Homo sapiens: one gene and its partner. The protein of the gene in region 2 purifies or fractionates together with the protein of the main gene of each other region. This does not show direct contact. Each region holds a gene or a part of one and is shown on either strand. Other genes may lie near its edges.

Region 1 (4,322 bases), on a different chromosome or scaffold from region 2:
TCCTTGCAAGGTTAAGCAAGGTGGGTGGAAACTAAGACACCTGAACCCTCCAGGGCCTCCCGCATCAAGGTCAGCATGAGGACAGACCACAGAGCTGTCACTTTTGCTCCGAAGCTACTTCTCCACTGTCCCGTTCAGTCTGAATGCTGCCACAACCAGCCAGGCAGGTCCACAGAGAGGGAGAGCAGAGAAAGAAGTCCTTTCTCTTTATTGAGTTCGAGGACTACAACCAATTTACACTGCCATCTGATGCCGTGATCCTGAGCCAAGGAGGTGAGGAGCAGAGCAGGCAATTTCACCACCAAATGCCAAGAAAAGGGCTGACATTTTCTTTCATGGGCACCAACCTGCATTTGTATGTGTCCCGAATCCACAGTCGTACTGATTCTAATGGGGACACAGATCATGGTAGAGAATCTCTCCCTCCTCAGTAAATGTACAACTGCACCTGTCATCATGGAGGTCATACATGCATACAAAGAGGTGTACAGGTACCATCTTGTATACACATATATACCCACATGTACAGACATACATTTATGCACATTCACGCTGTTTGTTTCATATATACAGGCATAAAATAGAGTAAATACAGGTAGTTTTAAAAGTACCCTTTTGTGTGAATTGACTACCGTTGTTTGCAAACCCGAAAATAAAAGACGTTCATTATGTATGAAAAGTAACTGATTTGTATTCTGTGAGCATGTAAAAGCGGAAAGTTAGTGCTTGTTCTAAGATTACCTTCTTGTTGATAAACCATAAATGAATCATCAAAGCTCACACCAAATTTTTCTATCAAATAAAACTAGTGACAGCTTGTGGCTTTTTATTAGAGCTCGCCACGAACTAGGGTAAGGTGAGTGTCTTAGCATATTTTAATGCAGTTGCTTACTAAAGGTTTTAACCGCACATGCACACACACACGCTTTCTTATGCAATCTATGTTTGCACTTGTGCTTTCAGTTAGCCTTCTGTAGGAAGTAGAAGTCATATGTTGTCTTTGTTGTAGTGAAATTATACAGATAGAGTTCCATATATTGTATTTGTTTCAATGGTAAATCCTTTTGGAACATATAGAATGCAGAGATTTTTTTTTCCATTAAAATAAATGGGTATTGGTGGTTAAAACTGCTGGACAGTAACTGTTCTCTGATTTCTATCTTGTGTCCAATGTCACTGATGTTGGGTCTTGTCTTAGTGCAAGTTCACATTTTTGACAGACCATTTGGGGTCCGTCGTACATCTCTGGTTGGTGAGTGAGTCTATGAAGACAGAAGTACCAGTTCTCAGCATGGGCCATGGACTCATCTTGTCCACCTCATGATATGATCTGAGGGTGTCATAATCAGCTATAAAGGTAATTGCATACTCAAAGATGAGACGGACCATTCTCAGTTGATGACCACATTAAGCATAGTCATGGCCATCTGTCAACAGTCCCAAGACCTGGGGATTTTTCTCTGGAACAAATCCTGTTGCTGGATCAGGAGATGCCACACCTTGAACTTGATAGGGTCATTCTCCACGAGCACATGCCCCCGACTCAGGGACAGGGGAATCTAAGCCTGTGCATTCACACTCCACAAGATTTCCTCTACTGGCTTTACAGGGCACTGTCACGCGTCTCCCGGGCGCACCTTGCTCCCCTCTTCCTGCAAGGCAGGGGGAGAACGTTCATCCTTGAACAAACAAAGAGCATCCTCAGCCAGTCAGGCGGCTGGTAGCCGGACACATATGCTAACTGGCAATCAGGAAGTCACCCTCCAATGTAAACTTCAGCCACATGCAGGGAGAAACACAGCAGCTGAGTGGCCATTCACTCAAGGAAACAAATACAGCATGACTCCTTTTCTCTCAAGCTGGTAGGCTCTCCTGCACTTTGTGAACCGAACCAGAAGATTAACTTCGCTGAAAATTCAGAAAAATAGGAGTAAAGTGCACACTTCATTAATAAATAGAATATGCCTCAACTTTCCCTTATTTAAACATATTCTCTGTCCCCACAGTTCTAATCAGGACAGAGATACTTCTGTCATGTTGTTCCTCCTAATAGTTTCCAGAAAAAAAGGAAAATAAACCAATTCTTATAGGCCAAAGTGGTAGCATTTCCTGAATCATAAGATGTTTTGTTCATTTGCTGGAATATATTACATTGTTTACTGAAAACCATAGTAGAATCAAAATGTTATTTCATTATTACCTATGCATTTTATCTGAGTCCAACTTATTAAAAAACGAAGTCAAGTAAGGACCAGAAATTGCTTTTCCCAATTACTGAGCACAGGTCTGAGGGTTTTATTTCCACTGAGCAAATAGTCACACCTTCACTTCTTTTTATTAATACTCAACCAACTTAGTTGATTAAAAATCACATTTTCTCCCTCATTTTACATACGATAAATTAATTATTTTGGATAATTTGTTTTAATAAGAATATGCACACATTTTCTAATTTCAATAAAAGTCACCTTCAATACCGCCAGTTCTCTCCAAATGAGCATCATTCCAGGCAGATATACCTGCTGTGCCTCTTGGCCGACACCAGCAAATCTAAGCATTATAACGAAATAAATCCAGCCAGATTTCATGGTAGGTATCAAATAAGACTTTGGCTCTTAAAGAACATCGTTAGAAATTTTGATAGCTCATTCCAGAGTTTCAGAATGTCATTTAAAACAGTCTGATAAATGGAACAACCATCTACCATCACACTCATAGAGTAGCTCAAATTGCATTTTACCCAAATAAATACACTGGGTCTTAATCTTAAGATGTGACAACTAAAAAATTTTTAACAAGTCTGTGTTTGATCCTGGATTTAGTGCAGTTGCACCCAGGCACGAGCTCTCCAGATGATTCTGAGGAAAGGAGTCTACAATTTTCCTAGGGGGTGTATGAACATGGTACCAAAAAGGTGATTAATAATTATAATAATGGTTTATATTTATCAACTGCTTATTATGTGCCCACACTGTACAAAATCCTTACAGATAGTAACTCATTAATCCCTCCAGTAACATATGAGACAAGCACTACTATCTTCTCCAACTCACAGATAAAGAAGGCTGAGGCTCAGAAAAATTGAATGGCTTGCCCAAGGTAAGTGGCCTCCAGAACCAAACCTCAGGCTATCTGGCTCCAGGGTTCATGTTCTTCCGACAACATCACAATGCCACTCTCAACCCAGGAGCAAAACCAGACAAAGTGCCTACTGCAGACCGGAAGACCCTCGTTTGAAGCCTCCATTAGCGTGACTATGCAGCTAGACCAACTTACTGTTAAGCAACAGTACCTTTTACTATGAGGTACCCTTTACTATTAAGTACCTTTTACTAACAGTATCTTCTGTTACCTATTATTAAGTTCATGCTATACTTCTTCAATCTGAAAGCTTTCTGTTAAAAAAAAAAATGTTAACATCGTTCTAAATTAATATTGAGACCTTAGAAATTTTTCCTGTGCAAGATAACGTAATTATTTGCCCCTTCCCTTCCATGGCTTGTTAGCAGGTAGATGAGGGGCTTCTCCTAGATTAATTTAACATCTCAGTTAATCAAAAGTAGCCGGGCATGGTGACTCATGCCTGTAATCCCAGCCCTTTGGGAGGCAGAGGCGGGTGGATCACTTAAGGTCAGGAGTTCAAGACCAGCCTGGCCAGCATGGTGAAACCCTATCTCTACTAAAAAATACAAAAATTAGCTGGGTGTGGTGGTGCACACCTGAAACCCCAGCTACTCAGGAGGCTGAGGCAGGAGAATCGCTTGAACCCAGGAGGCAGAGTTTGCAGTGAGCCATTGCACTCCAGCCTGGGCAACAGAGCAAGACTCCGTCAAAAAAAAAAAAAAAAAAAAAGAAAGAAAAGGAAATTTATGAACTCCAGAGTACCCATTCACTACCAAACCAACTGAGGGGAGAGAAAACTGAGGGAGAAAGTGGGGTGGGGTCTCAAAGGGTTTGCACTGTGCTTTGCTATAAATCATTCAAAGGGGCAAATTCTAAAGGATCTCTAAGTAGTTGCTGATTTTGTAAAGGTAGCCCATAAATCTGTTTACGTGTAGCTGCCTTAAACATGAGTCAACAGGGTAAGTCACACCAACAGGAAACCCAAGCACTAAAAAAGCCACCTACCTTTTCTGTTTACCAAATACTAAGAATAATAATCTAATAATCTGGCTACATCTTTCATAAAGACCTCCATCTTCTCTCCTTAACTGACTGTTGAGATTTGATAATTTTCACAGTCTAATGATAAAATGCTTTCAAAATGGTTCATCTAACACAATTAACAATTCTTTTACTATATGCAATGTGTTACCCTTACT
Region 2 (5,145 bases):
GGCACATGCCTGTAATCCCAGCTACTCGGGAGGCTGAGGCAGGAGAAGTGCTTGAACCTGGCAGGCAGAGGTTGCAGTGAGCTGAGATCGTGCCACTGCAGCTGGGAGACAAGAGCAAAACTCTGTCTCAAAAAAATATATATATATATATGGTACAACCTCCTTTAGGCTACTTGAAATTTCAAAATTGATATACTGAATAAAAACAAAAAAATTATAAACGTTGTTTTAAAAAACGTACAGATCCCTCCTTTGCCCCTCTCCAGGAGATTCTATCTCATGTCTCATCCCTCCCCCAATTAGATTCTAAGTTCTTACCACATCTTTTTAGAGTAGGGGTTCTTAATCTAGGATCCATGCACTATGGACAGGATCCAGGGAATAGATGGAAAAAATTGTATTTCCATTTACCTCTAAGTAAATTGAGCATTTTCCTCAATTATAAGCATAAGCAACAAACCACAGTATTAGTAGAACTTGTGGCTTTGTCACCAATAGAAATCAGATACTCTCACACATTAGTTCTGCAGGTATCTCAAAATACTGTTTCTATTCATCATTACTTAGAAATTACAAATTTTAATAAAATACATTAGTGCTCATCATTCATGTATATTTAATGTGTTAACAAAGGCATTCATATTACTGTCATATTGAAATATTTTGATGACTTCCAAAGGCGCCCCTTGCATAGAAAAGAATCCGTTTTAAGAATATATTTTGAACAATGCCTCACAGAGTAGGCAGTAAAAATTTAGCCAGTCTTCACATTGATTTACCTCATCTTAACCAAAAAACAAATCCACTCCTTCCCAGGAATAAAAGCTCTTCGACCCAGTGCAAGCTTGCTGGCTGGGGACATCCCAGACAGGCCTGCTGCCCTTCCCCTTCCAGGACAGAAGCTCATAGGCCATACCTTGTACACAAACTCTTCCATCTTCTCCATGGCGTGGTGGGCTTGCAGGGGAAGTGTCAGTACCCGCACCTCCTCCTCTTCTTCCTGGGGCACTGGGCATGTTTGCTCTTCTTCAGCCTATGGGGGAAAAAACCCACAACAATCCAGGGAGTCATCTCATAAATTGTACTATTCCAGAGCAGAGAGACCCAGAAAAACCCAAACCTAATGCCTTCTGCCCAGCCTCTTTCCTACAGAGGGTCTTGTGGTCTCTTCTCCAAAAGCATACACACTGAGTTTACAACACTAGTTAGAAATTTATTAATACTTCGTAAATGCTGGAGTGAACATTCTATGCAGTGCGTAAAAGAAGGACTGTCACAGAGACTAGCATTGGGGGAATACACCAGCTCTAGGTACTGAATGACATCCTTTTCTTTAGGATAGTGGTTCTTAACTTTCCTCAGTTTCCCAAAGAGTTCTCTTTTCTAAGCCATTACATTTTCTTTCTTTCTTTTTTTTTTTTTGAAATGGAATATCCCTCTGTCACCCAGGCTGGAGTACAGTGGTGCGATCTCTGTTCACTGCAACCTCCGCCTCCCGGGTTCAAGCAATTCTCATGCCTCGGCCTCCAAGTAGCTGGGATTACAGGCGCCCACCACCATGCCTGACTAATTTTTGTATTTTTAGTAGAGATGGGGTTTCACCATGTTGGCCAGGCTGTTCTCAATCTCCTGACCTCACGTGATCCTCCTGCCTCGGCCTCCCAAAGTGCTGGGATTACAGGCTGAGCCACCATGCCCAGCCTACGTTTTCAAAACAACGAAAAAGACACAGAGTCTCAGAGAGTTCCATAACAATAATTCTGTTCAGAGTTCCCTGTTCACTGACTCTAGGGATGCTGTCATGATTGAAACTTTGTATCTACAGCAGCTCCCAGGAGTACCAGGGCCTCAGAACTGGTTCCATGGAAAACAGCGGTACTGACTCCAGGGCCTAAAAAAGCGCACCCAGAGGGCCGGGCGCGGTGGCTCACGCCTGTAATCCCAGCACTTTGGGAGGCCGAGGCGGGCGGATCACGAGGTCAGGAGATCGAGACCATCCTGGCTAACACGGTGAAACCCTGTCTCTACTAAAAATACAAAAAATTAGCCGGGCGAGGTGGCGGGCACCTGTAGTCCCAGCTACTCGGGAGGCTGAGGCAGGAGAATGGCATGAACCCTGGAGGGCGGAGCCTGCAGTGAGCCGAGAACGTGCCACTGCACTCCAGCCAGGGCGACAGCGAGACTCTGTCTCCAAAAAAAAAAAAAAAAAACACACCCAGGAGAGCACTTGCCTGTGAAAGGGAGAGAACTTTCTCTCTCTCTATCCCAAGGCTCCGAATCATGGCTATAGAAAGCCTGGCAGTTCAACTCCTTTTCTGGGCTATTTCTCTCCTGTTGCTGATGGTCACTAGTAAACACATGGTCCATCTTAGATTTTGTGCTACAGCTTCCAGCCAGTCTACCCTAACATCCATTCTCTCTCTTCCTAAGTAACAAAGCCCACGGTTTTGTTCAGGGTGGCAATGTTACTGCAATTTTACTCAGGCTGCACTTTCTAACCTCCACTGCAGCTGAATATAGTTATGTAAGTAAGTTCTGGCCGAAGTCTTATGAGGTACTTCCTGATAGTCCCTTTATTTATTTTTGTTTTTTCTGAGAGGGGGTTTCACTCGTTGCCCAGGCTGGAGTGCAATGGCACGATCTCGGCTCACTGCAACCTCTGCCTCCCAGATTCAAGCGATTCTCCTGCCTCAGCCTCCCGAGTAGCTGGGATTACAGGCGACTGCCACCACACCCAGCTAATTTTTGTGTTTTTAGTAGAGAGGGGGCTTCACTATGTTGGCCAGGCTGGTCTCGAACTCCTGATCTCAGGTGATCCACCTGCCTCGGCCTCTCAAAGTGTTGGGATTACAGGTGTGAGCCACCGTGCCCGGCCCTGATAGTCCCTTTAAAAGGCAAAGAGTTGGCCGGGCACAGTGGCTCATACCTGTAATTCCAACACTTTGGGAGGCTGAGGCAGGAGGATCACTTGAGCCTAGGAGTTTAAGATCAGCCTAGGCAACATGGCGAGATCTTATCTCAATAAAAATAAAAGGGAAAGAGAGGGCCTTTCTTCTCGTTTCCCTTTCATGGGGGGTAGAATGTGGGTATGATGGGCACATATTAAGAGTGATGGGAGAGCAACACAGGTGCCTGACAGTGGTGGATCCTCCATATCAGCCCTGGATTGGTTACTTCTGAAATTCTTTTGCTTGAGAGACTTCTGTCCTGTCAAAACTGTAAGGATTTTTGTGTGTTATATGAAGTCAAACCTAATCCTAATTGACTGCTTCCTTCATTCATTCAGATATTTACTGATTATTTATTGGACTGCAGGCCTTGTGCTAAGCACTGGTGTTACAAAGATGAGTGCATTCCCAAAAGCTTACAATGGGGAAAGCAGACAACAAGATGTTTATAACAGTATCATAGGGACTTGGATAGAGACATTTCCAGGATGCAATGTTCCTCCTTTTGGACGGTGAGCTCTTAAAAAAGAGAAAATGACAGAGTTCTAAGGAGAGAAACTGAACAAGGGGATGACTCCTGGGAAGATGACTTACTTTGGGTGGGTTGGCGATTACCCGTTTGCCCTTCTCTTCTAGCAGGGGTCCCAGTTCAGCCAGTTCCACCGTGTCAGCTTCCCTGTTACTGGCAGGAGCCCCATTCCCCTGTGCCACCACAGATCCTTTGTGGGAAGACATCTGGCTGGTACCTCAATACCCTGCAGCTTCAGCTTGGGGAAAGGTTGGGGTCTCTCAGCCCCAGGGGGCAGAGATCTCCCTCTGATGGTAGACACTAAAAGAAAATACAAACATGAAGGATTGACAATTTATTCCTCTTACAGTTTCATTTCTATACTCTAATACTGAATAAGAAGCTAATCAACTCATATCCTGTCCCCAATTCTAAAGGCCAGTTAATTGCTTAAATGAAATCTATTCCTGTCCTCCCTCTTTAATGTCAACCTTTACCCAGAACCTCACTAATCTTATAGGTAAGGCTGAAAATGTAACACCTAGTTGCTTGCTTTCATATGATCTATGGTTACTGCACCAAACTGTCACCATAGAAAAACAGCTACCCACCCTCAACTCCCTCCCACAGGTATGGAACCATTTAGTGAGAAGAATCTCATCTATCACTCCCAAAGCTCACTCTGCCCAAGAAAGGCCTAGCTCTGAGACCGAGGAATAAAAATATAAAGCCAACATCTGGCTGCAATTACTACAAGATCATCCAGGCTTAGAAATGAATTAAATGCCAACTGAACTCAGTTAGACCTTATCTACAAATGCTCTGATAAATGTGTCATACATACAAAAGGAACTTGGTTGTGGGACAGATGCCTAGTGGTTAATTTCTCTGCGAAGTCTACTAATTCTATTACAGGATTATAGCCTGAGTTCAACCCTGGGATAACAAGCTTTCATCACAATCTGTCCTGCAAGCAAGCAAGAACTTACCTGGAAGCAGGAAGGTGAAGACAAGGAGGCAGCCCCAATTTACCCTTTGCCACACACATACCTAATAACCAGCTCCACAATAACTTGTTTCAACCACCACAACCCATAATCTAAGCCCTACTCAAATGAGTATTTCAGAAACTAGAGACAGGCACACACAAAATCAGAAAAACCCAGAATTCCATTTTCTAGGAAAAATCTCAGACACTTTAGGTTTTCCTGGGTTGGATTTTCACAGTAGTCTTTAAACAGGCCTCAGGGAAATGCAAATAAAAAAAGAGGGAAAGAGGGAGAAAGTTTCCAAAGATTTCCACTATGCTGTAAATTATTAGTTCTCTCCCCACCTCTACCCCCATACAAAGGACTTTATTAGTTATAGCAATAGCAGTAGCCAGAATATTAGCATTTTCTTGCATTGGTTACCCAAGCCCCACCCAAACCCAAATAACCACATTGCAATGCAGGGAGGGCCAGGTAACAACTGCACATGGAGTGGGTTGCATTCCGGGAGAGGAAACTTAAGCTTAGGGAGCCCCAATCTTTTATATTGGGCAGTAAACATAACTTTGCTCCTGAGGGAGACACTATATCATCCATGGCTATTCACTATATACAAATATCTTTGATATCTTGTGTCAGTTCTTTTTTATCTAAGAGTAATCACAATTCCTTCTCAGGGATTATAAATCTCTTTCTCTGA

The links. The genes of interacting proteins can lie anywhere in the genome.
Region 1: the proteins of ADIPOR1 (region 2) and CDH13 purify together in Homo sapiens (affinity purification with western blotting, with the first as the bait; one study listed by BioGRID). This does not show direct contact.

What each region holds. Positions count from the first base shown.
Region 1 is NC_000016.10:83,795,469-83,799,790, forward strand, and holds part of CDH13 (cadherin-13 isoform 1 preproprotein), read left to right. Parts: 3' UTR 1-4,322.
Region 2 is NC_000001.11:202,947,388-202,952,532, forward strand, and holds part of ADIPOR1 (adiponectin receptor protein 1), read right to left. Parts: intron 3,778-5,145; 5' UTR 3,684-3,777; coding exon 3,543-3,683; intron 1,034-3,542; coding exon 917-1,033; intron 1-916. UniProt on the Homo sapiens protein: Receptor for ADIPOQ, an essential hormone secreted by adipocytes that regulates glucose and lipid metabolism. Required for normal glucose and fat homeostasis and for maintaining a normal body weight.